Regions from separate parts of the Homo sapiens genome. Here region 2 is linked to region 1. The links come from fine-mapping of genetic effects on gene expression. Tissue or cell type: whole blood. Region 1 holds a variant in brackets; the other region holds the start of a gene. All regions are shown on one strand. Distances are between the middles of the regions.

Region 1 (9,978 bases):
ATCATCATCATCTGTCCTTCTCTCCACAACTCCCTTGCTAGCTGAATTTATTGGAAAAGATGTTAGTGACTAAGGTTCTCTCAAGACACATGACAAGATTATTCAAAGGTTCTTTTCTGCCTCTTCAGCTGAATGGTTTTAATAAACTATGTTCTCTGGCTCTAGTTGTCATTTTGACCTAAGAGACCAGTACTTTCAAAATGTTATAATTAGCCAGGTATGGTGATTCACACCTGTAATCCCAGCACTTTGGGAGGCCAAGGTGGGAGGATCACTTTAGCCCAGCAGTTCAAAACCAGCCTGGGCAACATGGCAAAACCCTGTCTGTACTAAAAATAAAAAATTAGCTGGGTGCAGTGGTGAGCGCCTGTAGTCCCAGCTACTTAGGAGGCAGAGGTGGGAGGGTCCCTTGAGCCTGGGAGTTCAAGATTACAGTGCGCTATATGATCATGCCACTGCACTCCAGCCCAGATAGAATGAGATGCTGTCTCAAAAAAAAAGTTATAATCAATCTGATTAAGGTATGATTCTATCAGAGAGAAAGAGAGAGAGAGAATAACAATATAAAGCCTCTGATGGGCTGTACAGAGATTAGTAGGGATGGGATCTTTGCCTCGGGACCATATGTCACAGCGAGGAACGAACAGCTCTGATCCATTAGCCCTCCAGAGTCAGCCTCCAGAGTTTCCAGCAGAGAAGGTCCATCCCACAGGGAGCCTGCTCACTGTGCCCTAAGGAGAGCTTTTTCTTCTATTCCCCAGGAGCTGGTCCATGAATGCTCCTGGCTGTGGGCATACTGTACCAGGGACAGGACTTGCCCCAGACAGAGGCCAGCCTGGGACCAGCACTGACAAGCTGAGTGCTCCCCCTGAACATTTACCAGTGGTCTTACCATTTTCCTATAAAAGAAAATAGCTTTCTTCTGAACATCCCATCCTTGCAGGTGGGTCTTCCCAAAGGGATGCTCATCAGTCTAGTGGTTGGGGTATGGAGGGATGCTTAGAGCTGACATGGACCCTGCCGCCTGCTCAGTATGAGACAAGCTCTCCAGCAACACCTCACTGCTGTTTAGTCTGAATTCAATCTACAGAGAGATTATAGTGTGCTACCTCATTTGGCACTCCATTGACTTTTGAAATGATCAGCTAGATTTGAGATTATGTGCACCAAAAAAAAATCAAAGCAATTCAAAACTAGAGATACCAGTGGCCCTGAGTACAGTGGGCTAGAAATGGGAGGTAAACCTACATAGAGGCACTGCTGGTGGTTTGGGGGACTTTTTATGTCCCAAGTTTCCTTTAAAAGGCTTGGCAGTAAGTGGCCACAGGTGTGAATGGAGTATGTGTATAGGCGGTGGGGATGGGGTAGGGAAGCAGGCCATAGATGCAATGTGAGGAAAGCTATGCAATTTCTAGCTGATTAAACATTAAGAATCTGAGGCCAGTGGTCTGTAGAAAAAAAGGTAGGATATTTCTAAGCATAATCTGGTTGGAGAAAGATACTGGCCCCATCCATGAGGTATATCGTGGCTGTGTAGTAAGATCTCTAATTCTGCACTAATATAGTAGCCACCAGCCACATGCAGCTATTTAAGTTAAAATTAATTAAAAGTAAATAAAATTGAATTTTCATTTCTTCAATCACACTAGCTCAATAGCTACATGTGGTTAGTGGGTGCTGTCTTAGTACAGATACAGAACATTTCAGAAGTTTCTATCGGACAGCACAGTTCTAATTACTGAGAGTCAGTGACCTAACATTATTGTAGTTCCTATAGGGACCCACTAAAGGCATATTCTGAAAAATGCAAACTAGGCTCATTTTTCAACTCATGTGCTATTAAGCTGGAGAGGGGACCTGCTGGTTGGTCATTTGTTTTGCTCTGAGCTAATTCCTAGTGTGGGTTTGGGGCCAATTAACTACACAGGACTCTGTGTCTGCTACTTATAATTTGTTGTCTAGGCTAAGTAAGTACAGATGCTCTTTGACTTATAATGGGGTTACATCCCAATAAGCCCATTGTAAATTGAGAATATTCTAGGTCAATACACCTAACCTACTGAGGTAGGAGGCCAGACACGACTCCAGAGGCAGGGCTTGGACACTGGACCAAATTGAGGACCAGCTAAAACACAGCCAGGGCAGAAGACGCTTTCCATAAGACACGCCCACCCGTGTGCCATGTCAGTTTACTGTTGCCATGACAACACTCAGGCTTTATTGCCCCTTTCCATGGCAATGACCCAATGACCCAAAAATTACTACCCTTTCCCTAGAAATTTCTGCATAAACTGACCTTTCATCTACATGTAATTAAAAGTAGTTATAAATATGAGTGCAAAACTGTCCTGAGCTGCTACTCTCTGCCTGTGGGGCAGCCCTGCTCTGCAGGAGCAGTCACGGAGCTGTAACATTGCCTCTTCAATAAAGCTGTTTTCTTCCACCTCCAGTTTGCCCTTGAATTCTTTCCTGGGCAAAGCCAAGAACCCTCATGGGCCAAACCCCACTCTGGAGCTTGCCTGCCCTGCATCCCTACCAAATATCATAGCTCAGCCTGACCTACCTTAAACATGCTCAGAACACTTACATTAGCCTACAATTGGGCAAAATTTTCTAACACAAAACCTATTTTATAATTAAGTGTTGAATATTTCATGTAATTTATTAAATACTGTACTGAAAGTGAACAACAGAATGGCTGTATGTATGAGCACTCAAAGTAAGGTTTCTACTCAATGCATATCATTTTTCTCCTATAGTAGAAAAATCATAAGTCGAACCATCATAAGTTAGGGACCATCTGTACTGACAATAGGTAAGGAAAATGAGAGCTGACAGGAGAATGGCTAAAAGATTTTGAGAAATAAAAATTTAGAAAGAATAGAAGCCCTATTATTTGCAACTGTGTTTGAGCATCAGCTATAAATGGGAATAGACTATGTAATTTAAAACAATAAGCTTTTTTAGACATTAACAAAAAGACAACATTGGGGCTCATCTCCCAAAAGCTGGTTTGGGCACTCGCTGATCTGGGAATCTGTTGAAAGCCATGGGGGCCCCACACAGGCGGGTGTCAGTGCCCTCACTTTCTCTTTTGACTAAAGGAAACGATCAAGAACACAGGTGCCCTGGCCATCCTTTTCCCAATAAACTGTGAACATCACCAGCTGGGACACCAGCAATTCTCCTTAGGATGGACCCACTGCAAAGACAGTCTCTTCTCTAGGGGAACTTATAGTCTAGTAGCTATGTTTCTTTTATGAGCCACACTACCTATAAGTTTTGGATGAACTTCTCCAGAGCCCTGGCTCAAACATGCCCATAGTTAATGTCACCCCTTATGGTCTGGTCCTGGTCTCAAGCACAACTGATGATCGGTCTTATAATTTGATCAGAAGTTTGAAACTTGAAGGTGGTTTTATTTATTCCTATGCTCCAATAGAAATCTTATGTGGACTCCCTTTAAAAAGACAAACTAGAATTTTACAAAATTAAAACTATTTGGGGGAAACTCAGATTTAATAGTATCCAGCCCTGCTGTTGTGAAAAATTATTAAATATTAAAAATAAATTATAGGTTCATTCCTGAATCTCCCCGATGGCTGATATCCCAGAGAAGATTTAGAGAGGCTGAAGATATCATCCAAAAAGCTGCAAAAATGAACAACATAGCTGTACCAGCAGTGATATTTGATTCTGTGGAGGTAAGCATTTGCAGATGTTTCCTCTTGAGATCAGCTATGCATTCTTGATTTTATGGAATTTAACTTAATTCAATATTTGTTAAGTGCCCACTATGTACCAGGCATTGCACTAGGCCTTAGGAACACAATCATGATTAAATTCTAAGATAAAATCCACCTTAAAGGGCTGTTTATAAGAATTAAATGCAATAATATATGTAAACTGCTTAGCAAATAGCAAGCGTTCATTAAATATTAGTTTGCTTTATTTTGCAAGTTTATCATCAACTTTCTATTGGCATTGCTCCAAACCACTGACACAGCTATGTACTGATGATTTTTAAATGTCCAGATTAAGTGGAAAAATATGTTTCAGGGCTAGTCCACCCTGGGTTCTCCACTGTACCCTGAATCTTACCACAGACTGCTGAGGAAGCTATGCATGTCTTTAGTCTCACTCTGTGTCATGTCTAGAACCTTAAGGCCTGAAAGCACAGGCTTGAGGATTCACCCTTGAAAGCTGGTGGCCACAAGGAAAAGCTGATATTCTGTGGAAGCAGCCACACCTCCTGACAGTTCGTGAGGATATGCAGTGTGCCATGCCCTGTGCTGGCTCCTAGAGGAAATAAGAAAAGACACAGCCCAAATTCTAAAGGAACATAGAATGTAACTAAGATTGGCAAGAGGATTAGATAAAAAGATAAAGAATGGCATAAGGGAGGAAATGGTAAGTATCCAAGTAGAGACACTGTGTGCCAGCAATACAGAGAAAGATAGCAGGGTGGCCCATGGCTGGAGGCAGGTCCAAGCCAGGGAGGACAGCAGGACTCACTTAAATGAGTGGAGAGGATGGGGCAGGGCATTCCTGTCTAGGAGATAGGTAGGAGTCTGCTCAGGACACCTAAAAAAGACTGTGGTGGCTTCAGTAACATTATACATGCCCTGCACCAAAGCATGTAGTACAGAAAGCAGAACTCTGTAGAGGACGGTGGGCATGCCACTGCTCACCCCCACGGCTTCCCCAGTCCCTGGCCTTCAGGACCTTTTCCAGAAGCAGATACTCTGGCTATGGCTAGAGGCTTAGACTGGCCATGAACTCAAGCTCTCAGAGGGCTGCCAGGACAAAACATCCCTTAATCCTTTGCCCTTCAAATCAAGAAGTCCATTTCAAGTCTCAGTCAATTTAAATGGATAAAACAACAACAACAACAACAACAACAACATTGGGAGTGTCTAACACTTCTGCCCTTCAGGGCTGTGCTGGGGTGTTTATCGGTATTTATCAGCTAGGTGGCCTGATTCCTATCTGTGAAACTTAGAGTCTAGTTGTAGGGATCTACCTATGTGGATGACAGCAATCATAAAATAGATATGAGATATATAGTTATGGACAAATAAGAATATAGTTCAGTGTTAAAACACATGGTTCTGGCAGTGCCTTTATATATATATATATACACACACACACACACACACACACACACACGCATATATAAATGTGTATATATATGTGTGTATGTGTATATATATATATATATATATATATATACACACACACACTTTAAAAAAATTTTGAGTCTCACTGTTTTGCTCAGGCTAGAGTGCAGTGGTACAATTACAGCTCAATGTAGCCTCGACCTCGACCTTCTGGGCTCAAGCAATCCTCCCACCTCAACCTCCCAAGCTGGGACTACAGGCACTTGCCACCAAACCCAGCTAACATTTTGTATTTTTTTTTGTAGAGACAGGGTTTCACTATGTTGCCCAGGCTGGTCTCAAACTCCTGGGCTCAAGCAATCCTCCTACCTCAGCCTCCCATAATGCTAGGATTACAGATGTGAGCCATCATTCTCAGCCTGACAGTGCCTTCTTTCTTCCTGCCATGATGCACATCTAGCCTGAACTGGACAAACCCATTAAGGGAAAGGGGGCTTGCGCTTTCCTGAGGCCTGGTCATCTCCCCTGCTCACCTCCCGTAGGATCCTCTTTAGGAGGATCTGCAGAGCCCTGTGCCAGCAAATGCACCCTATTTAGAATGATATTGAAGAGCCTACCAAATGCCAGGCACTGTGTTCTGCTCATTGCTCATG[CT/C]TTTTTTTTTTTTCAAAAAAAGAAACTAAGGCACAGCGAAGTTAAGTAACTTGCCCAGGATCACACAGATGTTAAACTGGGATTTGTGACCTAGTTCTCCCAGGCACCAAAGTACATGCTCTTAACAACTGTGATTTTTCACTTCATGTTACAGGCAGTAGCATTAACTTGGATAGGAAAAGATATAGAGTAGAGTATTGTCTTAGAAAGCAATCTCAAGCATCCTTGGCTTCAGAAGAAGCACCTTCAACCTGCTTCTGGTACCTGATCCAAAGACATTTTGGTGGCTCCACCCAGGCCAGGGACAACCACTGGATACAAGCATATTCTTGTTCTGAGGTTTCCAATCCTGGCTGCTCATCACAATCACCCAAGTGCTTTAAGAATACAGATTCTCAGGCCTCTGTTTAAAAGAGTCGAAGTAGGCAAGCCCAGGGAGGAACCTGGCAACCTGCATTTAAGAAGGGCCCCGTGGAACCACCAAGTATTAGCACAGGACTGGTCCACAGGTCCTGTCTGTGTGCACCACCCTGGAACCCTCCAAGAAGATGTCTGGTTCCCACTAGTTTATGCAGTGGCTTTGCTTTGTTATAATACCAGGGTTATTCTGCTGGGGGCATGTTCTGGGGCTCTACAATCCAAATAGTGCAAGAGAGAAAAGGCAATGTGGCTGTGAGCTGTGTAAGTGTCTGATCATTCCTAGAAAAAAGGACACTCACATTTGGAGAGGACCTGCTGTGAAGGCAGGCCTGGCACTCCCACTTCTTCATAATAAAAACTCCTCCATCAGTCTCTTACTGCGCATGCACTGTAGGGCCACAAAGTCACAAAGTCCTGGTACTTCATCCCTGAGAGATTCCCCACCTCAGAGCCTAATAACTTTTATGTTAGTTTCAATTCTAATCAGCTTGGTTACCTTGATTCATAACTCATAGCAAGTTAATATCAGCAAATTAAAAGCAAAAGAATAGGCCGGGCGCAGTGGCTCACACCTGTAATCCCAGCACTTTGGGAAGCTGAGGTGGATGGATCACCTGAAGTCAGGAGTTTGAGACCAGCCTGGCCAATATGGCGAAACCCCATCTCTACTAAAAATACAAAAATTAGCCAGGTGTGGTGGCAGGTGCCTGTAATCCCAGCTACTCAGGAGGCTGAGGCAGGGGAATTGCTTGAACCTGGGAGGCGGAGGTTGCAGTGAGCTGAGATCGCGCCACTGTACTCCAGCCTGGGCAACAAGAGTGAAACTCCCTCTCAAAAAACAAACAAGAAAATAAATATAAATAAAAGTAAAAGAGTATAAACCCATTGATAGCAGTAAGGATTTGTCACTGACCGCTGATGGCTAGCCTCTTTTCCTCAATGATACAGTAATAATAATAATAGTTTAAATTTACTGGACATTTACCATGGTTCAAGCACTGTGCTAAGCTATATATATATGATCTCATTTAATCTCTCAACTCCCAATTAATATACCCATTTTATATAGCAGTAAGCTGAAGTTCAGAGAGGATCGTTACTTGCCCAAGGCCCGCCAGTAAACTGAAGTCTGTTCTGATGCTAAATGACTACAACAAGAGAAGTGTAAAAAGCAAGGCTGGGTAATCCCAGCACTTTGGGAGGCCAAAGTGGGCAGACTGCTTGAGGCCAGGAGTTTGAGACCAACCTGGCCAACATGGTGAAACCCAGTCTCTACAAAAAATGCAAAAATTAGCCAGATGCGGTGGTGCTCGCCTGTAATCCCAGCTACTCAGGAGGCTGAGAGGCAGGAGAATCGCTTGAACCTGGGAGGTGGAGGTTGCAGTGAGCTGAGATCACACCACTGCACTCCAGCCTGGGCCACAGAGCTAGACTCCATCTAAAAAAAACAAACAAATAAACAGAGAAGTGTAAAAAGCAGACGTGGCCTCAAGGAAGGGACTACATGGCCCTACCCTTCAATAGGCAGTCCTGAGGATCACAGATCAGTGTGGTAAATGACATCCATTCTCTGACTGTCAGTCAGAGAAAGGCTATGTTAGCCAACAGGCTTTGTCTAACGAGACAGGGAAGGGGGTGTTATATATTTAAAAGGCTTCTGTGTAAAATGGACTACAAACATTTTAAAGTGTCAGAGTAAGTGTCATATATGTAGATGCCCTATTGCCTCCAATCACCAGACTTCTAAGCATAGTCAAGGTGAAGTGAGAGTTGCATGCATAAGTTTTCCCCATGCATCATAGCCAAAGATACTTCCTTACTACCTCTTAATCTCATGGTTATTTGCATTATTTTGGTTACAGGAGCTAAATCCCCTGAAGCAGCAGAAAGCTTTCATTCTGGACCTGTTCAGGACTCGGAATATTGCCATAATGACCATTATGTCTTTGCTGCTATGGTAAGTAATAAGTGACCTGGAAATGCAGATATCCAGCACATAAGTATGCAACTGATTTTCTTAACTCAGAGGAACATTATGACAACGACTGGGTTTTCCTGAGGAAAAATTAAGATTATAAAATTCTAAATTATTTTGAAATGCCTCTATTCAGTTCATGGGACTAGATATTGAAAAATGTCACTGGGCGCAATGGCTTACGCCTGTAATTCCAGCACTTTGGGAGGCCAAGGTGGGCAGATCACCTGAGGTCAGGAGTTCGAGACGAATCTAGCCAACATGGTGAAACCCCGTCTCTACTAAAAATACAAAAATTACCTGGGCATGGTGGCACATACCTGTAATCCCAGCTACTTGGGAGGCTGAGGCAGGAGAATCACTTGAACCCAGGAGGTGGAGGTTCCAGTGAGCCTTGATCGCACTACTGTACTCCAGCCTGGGCAGCAGAGCAAGACTCCATCTAAAAAAAAAAAAGTCACAGGGTACAGTATTTAAGTCTGCAGTACTGGGACCCAAAGGGAAAGCATTCCCTTCCCCCTCCTAAAGTTATGGGATTGAGATCATTGATGTCCCTGGGTAATGGTTCCCTCCCCACCAAAAATTATGAGATTAAGACTAATGATGTCCGTGTTGCCTGAGGCAGAGATGCTAATTCAGCTCCTGCTTCCTGAAGCTGACCTGGCAATTGAACACTGAGGCTAGAATAACCTAGATCCCCATTGCCTGGATTGGAGCCTTGATCAGCTTTTTACACGTGCCAATAGCAAACTAACAAGTGGCTTTCAGGCGCAGAAATACTGAATTGGCTTTATAGATTAGATTTAATAATTTATCTGCCAAGAAAAAAGGAAAAAAGAAAATTCCTACTCTATGATGGCAGCACACACACACACACACACACACACACACACACACACGATGATCGTCAGAACTGGTAGATTTAGGCTGCAGCTAATCTAAGTTTATTTTTAAGGGCCATCCTACTTGGCAATTAGAAGAGATCAATGACAGAGCTTATGCGTCTGAATTAAGCAAGTGTGTCCTAGGTACATGGGCTTCTTAGTTCTTACATTTCAGCCTATATCCCTGATGCAAATGTTCTTGGGTAGTGGTGCTACTAAGCTAATAAAAAATTAGTCACTAGTTCTATCTAAACTACTCCTATTACTAAATGGGAAAATCACTAAGATCCCTTGAGCATACTTATTTGTTGTGTTTATGAATTAGTCCTTGTATTATCTAATTTGGGTCTAGTATGTGTAAAAAGATCCACTAGTGTTCCTGAAGTCATTTTTCAGATATCCTCTGCTTCTCAGTCATGTTAATAATAAGCAAATTTCTACACAGGGGTGTCTGCATAGTGCAGTTGTAACAAAAACTCAGGTTCAGTCACTCACAGCTTGCAGCGTCCAATTAACAAGAGCAAAGTCTGATGTAAGGAAAGTGACTTTTTATTCCAAAGCTAGCTTAGGGAGAAAGGTATCGGCTTCCTGCCTGAAGGGTACCACCGCTCCTCTTTTTGAAGCGGAAAGCAGGCACTTCTAAAAGGCAGGGGAGGACGCGAGCAGGTGAGGGATCAGAGGGCTAGCTTGCTGCCTTATCTACTGGGCAGTTGAGGTGGTGCCTTCATGGGCAGAAACAGGTTGTATAGGTGGCCAAAAACTCTAGCAGGCATACTTTGAGTTGGAAATTGACTGATATCGCTTGAGGAAATCTGGGCGGTGAGAGTTCCACTCTGGAGCTTCTAAGCACATAGTTAGATGAATTTGCCCTGCAGGGAGTGTCCAGTGAAGAGGAGGTTAAAAGGCTATAATTGCACTTCTAAAG
Region 2 (9,978 bases), 41 kb after region 1:
CACTCTTGGGTCATATAATTCAATGTTCTGGGGCTGAGGCAAATAATGTCTTACAGTGATTTTGGCAAGAAAAAAACAGCTATTTCAGATTTTGTTCAAGTTCCCCTAGTCATGTCAGACCCCATTGACTTCAGTAGGGATGGCACCATGTTCAAGAGGCTGAAGAAGAGACCTAGAACCAGAAACTGAGACATAAGGTTTATTGAGGGGACTTACAATACAGGGCAGTCCAGTGGCAGTGGGCTGGGCAGGAGAACCAAAACTCCTTGTAAAAAGCATGCAATTGGCCAGGCGTGGTGGCTCATACCTGTAATCCCAGCGCTTTGGGAGGCTGAGGCAGGTGGATCACCTGAAGTCAGGAGTTTGAGACCAGGCTGACCAACATGGGGAAACCCTGACTCTACTAAATACAAAAAATTAGCCGGGCCTGGTGGTGGGCACCTGTAATCCCAGCTACTTGGGAGGCTGAGACAGCAGAATCACTTGAACCCAGGAGGCGGAGGTTGCAGTGAGCCGAGATTGCACCATTGCACTCCAGCCTGGGCAACAAGAGCAAAAACTCTGTCTCAAAAAAACAAAAACAAACAAAAAACACCATGCAGTTTATATAACATTTTTACTTAACACCTTTCCCCTAGCAACCTCCACCAGGCAACCTTCATTTAACCTAAAACAAAGGGCTTTGATCGCCTCGTAGGGCCTGCATTCTACAGGATGGGCTGGGGGTGGGAGCAGTTCAGAAGTTCGTCATAGATAAGAAATGAAATATCTGGGTTGGCCACTCCCAGATTCCTTAGCTTGGAGCTCTGAACACACATTCTTCTTAGACCATAGGGTCATTCTTCAGGTATGCATAAGTTATTGCTGCCAAGTGCATCTGTCGGGTGCATCTGCCATACACCCCTTACCAGAAGCGTCCAAACACGGATTTGAGGGATCTACAGCAGACACTGGACAGATGCTCTGAATCATTCTCTACTCTGATGCTGAAGCTATAATATTGGACTAAGCTTGGGCCTTCTACTCTTTTCTTTCTTTCTTTTTTTTTTTTTTGAGACGGAGTCTTACTCTGTTGCCCAGGCTGGAGTGCAGTGGCGCGATCTCGGCTCACTGCAACCTCCACCTCCCAGGCTCAGGCAATCCTCTCACCTCAGCCTCCTGAGTAGCCGGGACTACAGGCGCGTGCCACAATTGGCTAATTTTTGTATTTTTAGTAGAGACAGGGTTTCACCATGTTCCTTAGGCTGGTCTCAAACTCCTGACCTCAGGTGATCCACCCTCCTCAGCCTCCCAAAATGCTGGGATTACAAGTATGAGCCACCGCACCCAGCCTATTCTTTTCTTAAAGGAGGAGGCCTTCCCTTCCTCAGGCAAGTAATTGCTGACTACTCCAGCCTACATAACGTCCAGACATATCCAAATCTGTGGAGAACACAAAGTTCTTAAGGTATTTATTTAGAGTCAATAATCAAAGTAAAACTAATAATTATAGCTAATATTTAGTTTGTAGTTAATATATGCTAGGAGCTCGAGCTAAGCACTACCATCCCAGGAAACTGAGGCTTAAAACACTTTTAAAATTTGCTCAAGCTCACAAGCTTGGAATTGAAGAAGAAAGCAATTGAATATTGGTCTTTCTTCTATCATACATCCAGAGGCTCTGCACTTAATCAATACAACATACTGTCTCTTATTGCACAAGTAACTACAAGGTTCATCTGTAAAATTCTATTCTGTAGAATAGAAGGGAAAACAAATTAAGGAATTACAGATGTTTATTCTTCTGAGCTTTAATTTAACGTATTGTTTGATTCAAATAATTTATATATTAGCTATCTATTGCCACATAACATAATACCTCAAAATTTACCATTTTAAAACAACCAACATTCATTATTTCTCAGAGTTTCTGAGGATCAGGAATCTGGGAGCCACTTAACTGAGTGGTTCTGGTCCAGAAGACTCTCATGAAGTTGCAGTCAAGCTGTCAGTAGTCATCTCGACACCCAACTGATGCTGAAGGAGCTACTTCCAAGCTCACTCAAGGTTGTTGGTGGGCCTCAGTTCCTCATTAAATGTTGGCTAGAGACTTCATTCCTTGACATCACATGGACCCCTCAAAGGGCTGCTTATAACATGACAGCTTGCTTGTCTCTGAGCAAGAGAAAGGGAAAAGAACACCCATGATGGACATCTTTTATAATGTAATTACCCAAGTGATATAAGTATCATCACTAATGCTGTATGCTTTTGGTCACATAGACCAATCCTGGTACAGGGATCATTCATTGGGTGCCATCTTGGAGGCAAGCTACCACATCTGCCAGGGTATGAATGCATTTAATCTAAAGTTCTAGCCCTGAACTGTAGGGTTATCTACCATATAAATCAGTTTTACATTTTTTAATATGTAAAATAGGAACATCCCAATTCAGAATATTGCAGGATAAAGGGCCTCAGGTAACTGATTAAGATTCTAAGCTCTCTTTCTCTTTTAAAAGATGAAATTTAAGGCTGGGTATGGTGGCTCCTACCTATAATCCCAGTACTTTGGGAGGCCAAGACGGGGGGATCACTTGAGGTCAGGAATTTGAGACCAGCTTGGCCAAAATGGCAAAACCCTGTCTCTACCAAAAATACAAAAAAAATAGCTGGGTGTAGCGGCGCGTGGCTGTAGTCCCAGGCACTTGGAAGGCTCAGGTGGGAGGATTGCTTGAGCCCAGGAGGTTGAGGCTGCAGTGAGCCAAGACCACCTCACTGCACTCCAGCCTGGGTGACAGAAGGAGACCCTGTCTCAAAAAAAAAATGCAATTTAAATAGTAATGGCATTCAGATAGTAATCACAGTGCACCTGGAACTGGACGGCACCATCTTAGGTTGCTCTCTGCTTTGCGCATGTGGACAAGCCATCTATGACAAATAGTTTCTTTTCTTCCTAAGGATATGCAGCTTCTTTTGTAGTATACTGCATTGTTTTCAGTCCCTTTCAGGAATGTTATCTGATGCCCAACTGATATTTCTCAAATGTTAAAATAAGACTTCTTCATCTTGTTTGGTCTGGACAGAGGTCAACATTCTTCTCATAAAAGCTTTCATTTCTTTTGAAGCATTAAAATAATATTTTAGCACACAAAAAAGGAGTTTATTTTCAAGAAGCTTTGCTTTCTTTTTCAGTTAGTTCTAGATAAGAACTATAACTTCACATAAGATGTTAGAAGGATTTAAGTACATTGCTGAAGGTATAACCATCCATCTTCAGGAAGTAAGAATAGTGAATAGTAAGTATAAAGAAACAAACAAGTCCTGTGATAACATCTTTATCATAATTTTTTTAAGTCTATTATGCTTTATGCAAATGTTTAGATTTCCTTGTTAAAAATCTGCTGGCCAGGTTAGGTTCCCTTTCTGTAGCTTTATTTTCAACTCATAATATAGTGACTATTAAATATTCTTTACTCAACACATTATATTGTAAAAATATACACTTAGTTCTGTTTCTATCACTAAGCCACTACTATTTTAAAAAGGAATATCTTGCATTGTTAAGTTTAGCAGCCCAAATTCTTAAAGGCCTTAGGAATGGTGCTGTCCAATAAGATAACCAATAGCTACATGTGGCTACTGAGCACTTAAAAAATGAGTCTGGCCAGGCATAGTGGCTCACGTCTGTAATTCAGCATTTTGGGAGGCTGAGGTGGGAGGATTGCTTAAACCCAGGAGTCTGAGACCAGCCTGGGCAACACAGGGATGCCTTGTCTCTGTAAAATAAAAAAAATAAAAAAATTAGCTGGGCACGGTGGCATGTGCCTGTAGTCCTAGCTACTCAGCAGGCTGAGGCAGGAGGCCCACTTAAGCTTAGGAGTTCAGGGCTGCGGTGAGCTATGATTGTGCCACTGCACTCTAGCCTGGGTGACACAGTGGGACCGTGTCTCCAATAAATAAATGAATAAATAAATATTAAAAAATAAAAAGTGTGGCTAGTCCAAATTGAAATGTGCTGTAAAATACACACTGGATTCCTTTTTTTTTTTTTTTCAAATCCTGAGAACCTGTGAAACACACTGAATTCTTAAGATTTAGTATGAGGAGGGGAAAAAAAGATCAATGATTTACATATAACAATGTAAAATATCAATAATTTCTATATTGATTATATGATGAAATGATCATGTTCTGGATATACTTGATTAAATATACCATTAAAGTTAATTTCATCTTTTATTTTTACTTTTTAAATATGCAGCATTGCCCAATAAAATACAGGACAACCAGTTACATTTTTATTTTATATATTCCTGCTTGGGACATAATATTTAAAAATTATTCATTCTATATCTGAAATTCAAATTTAACTAGGAGTCCTATATTTTTATTTGCTAAATCTGGCAATTTTATTAATATGGCTACTAGAAAAGTTAACATAACAAATGTAGCTCCTTATCCTATGGAACATTGCTGCTTTAGAATCACCTCGCTGCTTTTTTTTTTTTTCCAGTTAGCTTCTGAATAAACTCTGCACGGAAATAACTAATCTGTGGGGAATATTTAACCCTAGGCTAGGATCGTTAATCGTGAAGTTAAATTTTTACATCTGCATGAACAAAATGGCTTGTTACAGACGAAAATGTGGAAAGGGCATCTGGACTAGAATGAAAAGTCATAGCTCCCAGCCTCTCTACTAGGGTAGTTAACAGTCCCAGGTTCAAAATAATCCCCGTCCCTCTTATAAGATTAGGCGGTGTCAAGAGCAACTATCTGTGAGACCCTGGGCCAGTGACTTTCTCCTTACCTCCGCCCCCAAGTAGGCCTTGCAAAAAGCTGGGAGGGGTGCGTTTTCAACACTGGAGCTTCGCGGCCGCTCTCCCACTCGCTCCCCGCCCGGCGCTAGAGGAGCGAGTTCGGACTCGGACCCCAAGGCCTCGAGTCCCGCTGCCTTCCTAAGCCGAGCCCGGGCTACCTCGGTCGTCCCCAGCAGGCTTGGCTGGCAGAGGCCGGGCCTCGCCAGGTCCCCAGGACAGGCCCCGCCCGGGCCTCAGGTGCACTCCCGGCCCGCCCCGCGCCCTCGCGTCCCGCCCCAGCTCCGCCTTCGCCGGCGCCGCTCTGCCTGCCAGCGGGGCGCGCCTTGCGGCCCAGGCCCGCAACCTTCCCTGGTCGTGCGCCCTATGTAAGGCCAGCCGCGGCAGGACCAAGGCGGCGGTGTCAGCTCGCGAGCCTACCCTCCGCGGACGGTCTTGGGTCGCCTGCTGCCTGGCTTGCCTGGTCGGCGGCGGGTGCCCCGCGCGCACGCGCAAAGCCCGCCGCGTTCCCCGACCCCAGGCCGCGCTCTGTGGGCCTCTGAGGGCGGCATGCGGGACTACGACGAGGTGACCGCCTTCCTGGGCGAGTGGGGGCCCTTCCAGCGCCTCATCTTCTTCCTGCTCAGCGCCAGCATCATCCCCAATGGCTTCACCGGCCTGTCCTCCGTGTTCCTGATAGCGACCCCGGAGCACCGCTGCCGGGTGCCGGACGCCGCGAACCTGAGCAGCGCCTGGCGCAACCACACTGTCCCACTGCGGCTGCGGGACGGCCGCGAGGTGCCCCACAGCTGCCGCCGCTACCGGCTCGCCACCATCGCCAACTTCTCGGCGCTTGGGCTGGAGCCGGGGCGCGACGTGGACCTGGGGCAGCTGGAGCAGGAGAGCTGTCTGGATGGCTGGGAGTTCAGTCAGGACGTCTACCTGTCCACCATTGTGACCGAGGTGGGTGCCGGCCCCTGCTGGGGCTGAGACCAGGGCTCGGAGGACCTGTCGCGGTCCTTGAACCCGAGCTCCTCTCTCCCAGATGCGCACTGGACGCTGTCACTCCCCCTCCCCCAACGGTCAACACCCTAGCGATGGAGACCCTCCAGCCAGGTGGCTTGGGAACGCTTCACGAGGTGACCTCCAGCCACAGTGTGCTCCTCCCTGCACAGGTGGTCAGTCTGGCCTCCCGTCCTGATGGCCACTTTGAAGAGGGTACCAGGAAGGTCCTGGCGGTCCCTGGGCGATGCTCTATGGCCCTGTGTGTCCAGGACTTACTCTAGTTGGGGTTGGGGGTGGTAAGTAGCAGAGCCAGGACTTGGGCCAGGGGCTATCCCGTTTTTCCTCTAGTCTCTTGATTTCTTTTTAGAAGAGAAGAAATACTTCTCTTTCCTGAACTTTTAAAAGTTAAATAAAGCATGTGTATACAACTGCCTCTTCCCTTTTTCCTCTAGTTACTCCTTCCCCTACCGTCCACAACCCAAAAACGACAATCTGGTCATGCCCTGTAAGTAATTGTTTGCCTTTTCCCATGGTCAGTTGTCAGTCTTTTTTTTTTTTGAGACAGAGTCTCCCTCTGTCACCAGGCTGGAGCGCAGTCGTGTGTTCTTGGCTCACTGCAACCTTCGCAGTCGTGCGTTCTTGGCTCACTGCAATCTTCGCCTTCCGGGCTCAAGTGATTCTCCTGCCTCAGTCTCCGAGTAGCTGTGAGCCACGACGCCCAGCTAATTTTTGTGTTTTTAGTAGAGACGGGGTTTCACCGTGTTGGCCAGGATGGTCTCGATCTCTTGACCTCGTGATCTGCCTGCTTCTGCCTCCAAAGCTGGGATTACAACCGTGAGCCACCACGCCAGGCCGTCAGTTGTCACTCTTTAAGATCCATTCATCTGAAGATGGGTTCAGGGTGACTTGTTGACCTGGAATATTTTCTCAGGTATTATGAGGCAAGGCTGTCGGCCAGATTTAGTTAAAGCATACAGCCTTAGGTCATAGGGTGTAGGGGAGCCTTTCTCATTTCTCATCCCCTTGGATTTTCCCTCTGGGTGGTTTTGTCTGTCCCCTCCGAACCTGTTGGAGCAGTTGTTGGAGCTGGATGTAGGAACATGATGTTAATGATGTATGTGTTTTGTGTCTTTTTTAGACACTGGCACTCTAGCTCCCTGAAGTTTCAGCAGCATTGAGTAAGTAGCCAGTGAATAGCCCTCATTGATAGATAGGCTCACTAAATGTGCAGATGACCAATTCGCAGGTTAGAGAAGGCTTCCCAGAAGAGGAGGCCTCTCCGTGAGCCTAGGGTGTTCAGCTCAGCATAATAGTGAGCTGAAGGCCCCAGTGCAGCAGCAAGAAACCACCCAGCAGGACGGCGGAGTTCACAGAGAGGGGAGAGTTCATAGAGAGGGAGAGTGCCACAGGCCCTGGCACAGCTTCAAGCCCTGCTGGATGTTGGTGCTGAGCCTCCCCTCCTGGAGCCTCAGAGGGGCTTACAGGGGCTCTGGAGATCCCAACTGTGTTGCTTCTTGGCGTCATCACCCTTCAATGGAGTCTGAGAGCTACCCTGGGAGATCCAAGTGTGTGTGCATGTGTGTGTTTTTTCTTTTTGGAAATTTGATGTCCCCAGCATTTGGACCTGCTTTCTCCACATATATGTAGTGGGAGTGTGACCGGAGCCCCACTGGGATTTCTTAGCTAGTGACATAGCTTCAGTGTCCAGAGGCATCATGGCTTGACAAAAGAGGCACTCCTTGGAGGTAGCCAACTGTGCTTTCTGGCCCATGAATCCACAGGAAATTGGAACCTTCAGTTGCCACAAATCCTGGGTCCTAGCCTCACAGGTGGGTGTGTTACCTTCCCGGAAGCCAGTGAGTACTATGAAAGCAGAGGCTGTCCCTGAGGTTGCAGGCAGAGGCCACAGAGGGGAACATGACACAGGAATCCCTACAAATTCTACTTGGGGCTGCCTAAAGAAGAGGGAAGTAGTGAAGCAAGAAGAAGCACATGGCATCTCTTGGAGTTTTACATTGACCCCTGAGGGTTCCCCGGCTTACTCTAGTCACTTGTTCCTGCTTTGCTGCCTCCATCCCACATTGGGCTGAGTGATGGTGGCATTGATGAGCTCCCAAAGGCCAGCTGTGCCAGGGGGTCTGACCTTATCTTGCTGCCAATGTCAGCCTTTTGTTTTTTAATATTTAGACTATTTATTTAGCTGTCTTAGCAGTTTCAAAGGAGTTATGTGCCCTTTCACCTACTTATATGTTGTCAGTCTTTGCAGGGAGGCCAGATTAATGCTTAGATCTTTGTTTTGGGCTACTGGAATGCTTGACTTGAAGTTCAGAGCTGCTTGTTCCCAGGTGAACAGCTACTGCTGGAAGTTGCTGCATCAACATTCTAATGGCTTTTTCTATGGCCTGTTGTCTTTCAACCCAAACCTGGCCTGCTGACCACTGCATCTAGTCCCATGCCTGCTAAATGTCTCTAAGCCTGCCCTCTGCCCCAAATCATACATAAAGGTGTTTGTAAGTACACTGGTATTGAATTACTAGTCATATTTTTTCCACTGAAGACTGGAACCTCAGGTGTCCTGTTTGGATTTTTTTAATTTGTTCAAGTTAAAGTACATACATGTAGTACCAAACTTTGTGGTGGATTTAGATCTTTGCGTCTTCCTCAATTTCTGACACAATTCTGGATGCAGAGGGAGGTTCTCAGGAAAATTTTTATTGAATGAGTTAATGAATAATTTAAGAAATCATCTCTAAAGTTTGAGAACTAAAGAAAAATAGTTCAGTTCTTAGAAGGGAAACTTGAGGGTGGCTGAAAAGGATTGACTGGAATTTTTTAAAGGAAATGTGACTCCCCCTGCCCACTGACTGGGGCTTTGATGCCACATGGATGTGGAATGAGGTGTTGGGATTGGCAGAGGGAATCTGCTAGCAATTAATAAATAAATATTGGCAGGGCGTGGTGGCTCACGCCTGTAATCCCAGCACTTTGGGAAGCCAAGGCAGCAGGTCACTTGAGGTCGGGAGTTCAAGACCAGTCTGGCCAACATGGTGAAACTCCATCTCTACTAAAAATACAAAAATTAGCTGGGTGTGGTGGCACATGCCTGTATTCCCAGCTACTTGGGAGACTGAAGCAGGAGAATCGCTTGAACCCAGGAGGCGGGCTTTGCAGTGAACCGAGATCGAGCCTCTGCACTCTAGCCTGGGCGACAAAGCGAGACTCCATCTCAAAAGAATAATAATAATATTAATAAATAAAAATGATTTATGAGGTAAAAGAGTTTTATGCCCCCATGTTCCAGGAATAGTTTGGTGGTCCACATGGTTCTCGGCTGGCCTCTCCTCTGGCCCCTCAGTCATCCCTGGGGTACTGGGGAATTAGCCAACCCATCATGCAGTGCTTCTTGGCCATGGACTGCCCCATCTGCTGGAAACCTGGGTTGTTTCTGAGGTTGTCTGGGCTGTCCGCTCTTTGGTTTCACCATAGCTCTGTCCAGCCTATGGACAGACAGGTTCCTTGAGAAACTTCCGGCTGGGTGTGGTGGCTCATGCCTGTAAACCCAGCACTTTGGGAGGCTGAGGCAGGTGGATCACAAGGCAGGAGTTCGAGACCAGCCTGGCCAACATGGTGAAACCTCGTATCCGCTAAAAATACAAAAATTAGCCCTGCGTGGTGGTGGGTGCCTGTAATCCCAGCTACTCGGGAGGGAGGCTGAGGCAGGAGAATTTCTTGAACCTGGGAAGTGGGGGTTGCAGTAGCCAAGATCGCACCATTGCATGCCAGCCTGGGTGACAAGAGCAAGACTCCGTCTCAAAAAAAAAAAAGAAAAAGAAAAGAAACTTCCAAGCTGCTCTGCATCGCCTTGCTCTCCACCTGTCTGCTTCTAAGAAGCCCTCGGCCCAGTCCTGGGTGGGACTCCCACTCCCTCCCCATTGTCCTGGACTAGCTTTTCTATCAGCCTTATCTTGTGTAGAGACAGATAGTCTTAGAAGATGGGAGAGCCCTCACTGTTATCCCCAAAGCTGCCTGGAGGAAAAGCCAGAGCAACCTGGGAGCTGGGACCGGGGCTGACTCTGGGCAGCAGAGACCCGAGAGACCTGGAGCTTGAACCTCACTGTTACGCCTTTGTTGATTTCTCTCACTCAGGGGACACACAGACCCTCATCCAGCCTTTTGCAGCTATATGGCAAGGCAGAGA

What was found. PIP is the estimated chance that this variant, and not a neighbour inherited with it, causes the effect.
Region 2: MIR3936HG starts here. The variant in region 1 is fine-mapped to the expression of MIR3936HG in whole blood (INTERVAL, PIP 0.95).

What each region holds. Positions count from the first base shown.
Region 1 is chr5:132,323,700-132,333,677 of GRCh38, forward strand. SLC22A4 (solute carrier family 22 member 4) reads left to right here. Exons shown (of 10, transcript NM_003059.3): 5 at 3,578-3,704; 6 at 8,057-8,151. It overlaps MIR3936HG (MIR3936 host gene), which reads right to left. Exons shown (of 8, transcript NR_110997.1): 7 at 8,490-8,611. Among named protein-coding and RNA genes, the nearest start is that of SLC22A4, 34 kb to the left of the region's middle. The variant CT/C (reference allele first, on the strand shown) is at 5,774.
Region 2 is chr5:132,364,628-132,374,605 of GRCh38, forward strand. It overlaps MIR3936HG (MIR3936 host gene), which reads right to left and starts at 5,289. Exons shown (of 8, transcript NR_110997.1): 1 at 5,217-5,289; 2 at 1,941-2,154; 3 at 308-400. It overlaps SLC22A5 (solute carrier family 22 member 5), which reads left to right and starts at 5,083. Exons shown (of 10, transcript NM_003060.4): 1 at 5,083-5,738. The coding sequence starts at 5,346. MIR3936 (microRNA 3936) reads right to left here and starts at 972; the gene lies at 863-972. RefSeq lists a silencer at 4,966-5,285.